Linked DNA regions of Homo sapiens: region 2 is linked to region 1. Evidence: fine-mapped expression QTL. Tissue or cell type: non-classical monocytes. Region 1 holds a variant in brackets; the other region holds the start of a gene. All regions are shown on one strand. Distances are from middle to middle.

The links. PIP is the estimated chance that this variant, and not a neighbour inherited with it, causes the effect.
Region 2: it holds the start of BRI3, and the variant in region 1 is fine-mapped to the expression of BRI3 in non-classical monocytes (Schmiedel 2018, PIP 0.93).

The regions. Positions count from the first base shown.
Region 1 is chr7:98,406,798-98,409,554 of GRCh38, forward strand. No RefSeq gene overlaps it. Among named protein-coding and RNA genes, the nearest start is that of BAIAP2L1, 7.1 kb to the left of the region's middle. The variant T/A (reference allele first, on the strand shown) is at 1,448.
Region 2 is chr7:98,280,556-98,283,166 of GRCh38, forward strand. BRI3 (brain protein I3) reads left to right here and starts at 1,131. Exons shown (of 3, transcript NM_015379.5): 1 at 1,131-1,382; 2 at 1,796-1,898. The coding sequence starts at 1,241. RefSeq lists an enhancer at 1-946 and silencers at 643-1,152, 1,283-1,622.

The DNA.
Region 1 (2,757 bases):
TCCACCTGCCTCGGCCTCCCAAAGTGCTGGGATTACAGGCGTGAGCCACCGGGCCTGGCCCGTTTGGGTTTTTTTTTTTTTTGAGACAGAGTCTCACTCTGTTGCCCAGGCTGGAGTGCAGTGGCCTGATCTTGCTTGGCTCACTGCAACCTCCGCCTCCTGGGTTCTCCTGCCTCGGCCTCCAGAGTAGCTGGAATTACAGGTATGTGCCACCACGTCTGGCTGATTTGTGTGTTATTAGTAAAATGAGGTTTCACCATGTTGGTCAGGCTGGTCTTAAATTCCTGACCTCAAGTGATCTGCCCATCTCGGCCCCCAAAGTGCTGGGATTACAGCCACCACACCCAGCTTTTTTTTTTTTTTGAGACAGGATGTCACTCTGTCACCCAGGCTGGAAGTGCAATGGCCCGATCTCGGCTCACTGCAACCCTCGCCTCCCGAGTTCAAGTCATTCTCCTGCTGCAGCCTTCAGAGTAGCTGGAATTACAGGCACGTGCCACCATGCCCGGCTGATTTTTGAATTATTAGTAGAGACAGGGTTTCACCATGTTGGCCAGGCTGGTCTCGAACTCCTGACCTCAAGTGATCCGCCCATCTCGGCCCACAAAGTGCTGGGATTACAGGTGTGAGCCACCGCGCCCGGCCAGAGCTTTAAGTTTTCTTGTTCTGAAAGGCAGATGTGAATTTAAAACTCATTGACTTTTCTGTACTTTTCTTCTAATCTCAACAGCATTGAGTTCTCCTGCATGCCAAGCTCATTTCTGCCCTCGAGTTTTTCTTTTTTTTTTTCTTTTTCTGCGACAGAATCTTGCTCTGTCACTCAGGCTGGAGTGCAGTGGCACCATCTCGGCTCACTGCAAGCTCTGCCTCCCGGGCTCACGCCATTCTCTTGCCTCAGCCTCCCCAGTAGCTGGGACTACAGGCGCCCGCCACCACACCCGGCTAATTTTTTTTGTATTTTTAGTAGAGACGGGGTTTCACCGTGTTAGCCAGGATGGTCTTGATCTCCTGACCTCGTGATCTGCCCACCTTAGCCTCCCAAAGTGCTGGGATTACAGGCGTGAGCCACCGCGCCCGGCCTCCTAGAGTTTTTCACTAGCTATTTCTTCTGCCTGGAATGTTCTCCTCCCTGCCCCCCTACCCCAACCCAGGTATTTCCTGTCATTTGGAGTTCAGTTTAGATGCAGCCTCATAGAGGCCTTTCCTGACCACTCAACCTGAAGTCGTATTTGAGGCCCTCTCTATCATACCATTCTACTTTATTTTATTTTAATGTATTATTTTATTTTTTTTGAGACAGGGTCTTGCAATGTTGCTTAGGCTGGAGTGCAGTGGTGCAATCATAGCTCACTGCAACCTCGAACTCCTGGGCTCAAATGATTCTTTCACCTCAGCCTCCTGAGTAGCTGGGACTACAGGCATGCGCTACCATGCCTGGCTAATTTTT[T/A]AAAAAATTTTGGCTGTGCGTGGTGGCTCACACCTGTAATCTCAGCACTTTAGGAGGTCAAGGTGGGAGGGTCACTTGAACCCAGGAGTTAAAGATCTGCCGGGGCCACATAGTGAAACCTTGTCTATACTTAAAAAAATAGTTTTAGAGATAGGATCTTGCTATGTTGTCCAGGCTGGTCTCAAACTCCTGGCCTCAAGCTATCCTCCTGCCTCGGCCTCCCAAAGTGCTGAAATTATAGGCATGAGCCACCGCACCCAGCAGCATTCTATGTTAACTCTAATAGTGCTTAGCGCTAGCTATGGCACGTTGAATAAGGGATCCCCAAAGATGCCCAAGTCCGAATCCTCAGAACCTGTGAATGTTCATGATATGGTTTGGCTGTGTCCCCACCCAAATCTCATCTTGAATTGTAATTCCCACAGTTCCCATGTGTCGTGAGAGGAACCCAGTGGGAGGTGATTGAATTATAAGGGTGGGTCTTTCCTGGGCTGTTCTCATGATAGTAAATGAGTCTCACAAGATCTGATAATCTTAAAAACGGGAGTTTTGCCTGGGCACGGTGGCTCACACCTGTAATCCCAGCACTTTGGGAGGCCGAGGTGGGTGGATCACAAGGTCAGGAGTTCGAGACCAGCCTGGCCAATATGGTGAAACCCCATCTCTACTAAAAATGCAAAAATTAGCTGGATATGGTGGCATGTACCTGTAGTCCCAGCTACTAGGGAGGCTGAGGCAAAAGAATCGCTTGAACCTGGGAGGTGGAGGTTGCAGTGAGCCGAGATGCTGCCACTACACTCTAGCCTGGGCAATAGAGCAAGAGTCTGTCTCAAAACAAAACAAAAACAAAACAAATAAAAAATGGGAGTTTTTCTGCACAAGCTCTCTCTTTGCCTGCTGCCATCCACATAAGATATGGTTTGCTCCTCCTTGACTTCCACCATGATTGTGAGGCCTCCCCAGCCATGTGGAACTGTTAAGTCCAAGAAACCTCTTTGTTTTGTAGATTGCCCAGTCTCGGGTATTCTTTATTAGCAGTGTGAAAATGGACTAATACAGTTCACCTTATATAGCAAAAAAAGTCTCTGATCATTTTATACTTAACATGATTACGTGTTCACAAGTGATCACATGATCATTTTATACTTAACATTTTTAGGAACTGCTAACCTGTTTTTTCTCATTTTCTATGTCTTGGAAGAGTTTATGAAGAATTAGTATTTACTTTATTTAAATGTTTGATGGAATTCACCAGTGACACCAGGTGGGCCTGAGCCTTGCTTTTGGGTTGTTTAAAAATTAGTAATGCA
Region 2 (2,611 bases), 130 kb before region 1:
GAGCAATGACTGTGTCACTCTACTGCAGCCTGGGTGACAGAGCAAGAGAGCCCCCCCAGCACCCCCTACAAATTTTTTTTTTAAAAATTAAAAAGGCGCGGTTCGAGAAGAGCTGTAGTCGTCCCAGAGCTACAGTGCAGGTGATATCAAAATGCAGGTGAGAAAACTGGAGACAGAATACAGTAACGGATACAGGTGCCCCTGAAAAGGTGCAGAGGCGCTAAGGACGCAAGCAATCCTGAACGTTCCAATCGTTCGTTTTAAAGTTGTCCTGGCCAACCCGTGAAGCCTTGTATGAGGAAATGTTTCAACGAGGGCGCCTGACGCAGTCCCCGAGGCCAGAAAACACCCAGGTTTAGATACGGGCTCTGACCCGCACCTGCCACAGCCAAATCCCTCCCCCTTCTGAGCCCGATCCCGTGTTGTCCTCCAGGGGTAAGCAAAACACCTGGCAGGGCTGCCTGAAGATTAGGGAAACTGAGGAGACGCGGCAGGTGCCCAGTATTTATAGTTTTGTCCCCAAACGGGGGAGTTATTTGTAAGCACTGGCTACTACCCCCGTCAATCACCTAATTGTCCAAAAAAAGGCAAACGGAGGGAATGCGCCGCAGCTGAGCACCGCGCAGGCCGCAGCTGAGGTGCACACCCGGGTGTGCCCTTTGTATTGCTGGAAGCGCTGGCGATCATAGGGGCAGAGGGCTGGCGTTGGGGCGGCCTGGGACCCACCCGGCCCCGCCCCCTCTCAGGCCCCGCCCTCCCCCTCCTCCACCGGTAGGGGGACCTCGGCCGGCCTGGGAGATCGGGGCGTAGGGGGAGGTGGGGGTGCATCCGCGAGCCCTAAAGGTCATGACCCTATGGGGCGTCTCTGGGTCGTCGTGGGGGATGGGCGGGGGGGGGGGTCTCCCCGCCACGGGAGGTCTAGAGAGCAGCGGCGGCGGGGCGGGGCGGAGTGCAGAGGCGCCGCCGGCGGGGCGGCTTCGGGAGGGCGCGGCCCCTTTAAGACGCCCCGCCGGCCCCGCCCCCGAGCCCCGCCTCCCGCCGCCCACGTGACCCCGGTCTTGTGACTGGGCCCGGGAGGGCGGGGGAAGCCCGCGGCTCGCGCCCGCCCCGCCCCGCCCCGCGTCTGCCTCAGAGGGGCCCGAGCCACCCGGTCCGCCGCGTCCCCGCCGCCGCCGCCGCGTCCCCCGCCGGGGCCGACCGAGCCGAGCCGGGCCGGAGCGGCGGGCGCGGCCGGGCCGCCATGGACCACAAGCCGCTGCTGCAGGAGCGGCCGCCCGCCTACAACCTGGAGGCCGGCCAGGGCGACTACGCGTGCGGCCCGCACGGCTACGGCGCCATCCCCGCCGCGCCCCCGCCGCCGCCCTACCCCTACCTCGTCACAGGTGGGCCCGTAACCAACTTTCCCCGCCGGCGGCTTCCGAGGTGGCAAGCCCGGTCGGGGGACGTGGGTCCGGAGGCGGGTGGGGCCCGCCCGGGGGTCCTTCCTGGAGCTGGAGGTCCCCGGGCTGGCTTCGGGACCCGGCGCCGCCGAGGGCCAGCCTCCCCCCCGGGGCTCTAGTCCTCGGGCCCGTCGTAACCCGGCGGGGCCGGATCCCTGCCCCAGATGAACTTTGTGTCACGAGGCGCTCGCTGTTGGCAGATTAGCGCCGAATCAGGCCCGCGGTGGCCGTCCCGAGGGTGGAAAAGACCGGGGGCTTTTTTAGCGGGGTGGAGGTTGAGGGGACAGGATGAGTAGTCCCCGTGGCGGTCCGATTTCTCCTCCCTGCACCCTAATGACCTGCTTTCCCGCCCACAGGGATACCCACCCACCATCCCAGGGTCTACAACATCCACAGCCGGACCGTCACCCGCTATCCTGCCAACTCTATCGTGGTCGTAGGAGGCTGTCCTGTCTGCAGGTGAGTGGGTCTGCAGCCTGGGGACTGGCCCTGGAAGCTCTGAGGACCCCCGCCCTAACCCCCAGGACCTCACAGCTCTGCTTGTGGGAGTGGGTCCGGCTTGACTTGGATCTTGACCAGAGCCCTTTATGGGAGGGACAGACAGGCTGCCCGAATGCGGTGTGGGAGAGTGCGGGTCCGCTCACCCTTGGCTCTGAACACATTTTGTGGGGGCAAAAGGGTGGATTCCTTTTCCTAGATCTTGGGGCATTGCACCCCAAGTGATTGGGATGTAGAAATGGTAACAACGGGACTCGTGGTCCTTTCGTCTTTGTTCTGGGACTTGCAAGGAATCAGGTGTCTGCTTTTTCCTTCACTTTCCGCAAGTTTACTCTGCAGTTGATCGTCGAAGGTGGTGGAAGGTTTCATTTTCCCGGAAGGGGCATTTGGAAGTAAGTGCACCAGCAGGACAGACCTCAGTGGGAGAAGCGACGGCCGTAAGAGCTGCTTTATCCAAAGTTGGCTTGAAACGCTCTTCCACGAGCTGGACCAGGATGGAAACCCCGTGTTTCTTTGAGGCAGGAGTTATTTTTTTCATATCCTCGCATTGGACCTGCACACGCTTTTTGGTTTTTATAGGGCCCCGAGGTGCAGCTAGAGGCTTGTTTTGTGGAGGTTTTGAGGATTCACATTTAAATAAGGATTAATTAAATATAAACCCTTGGCAGCTGGGG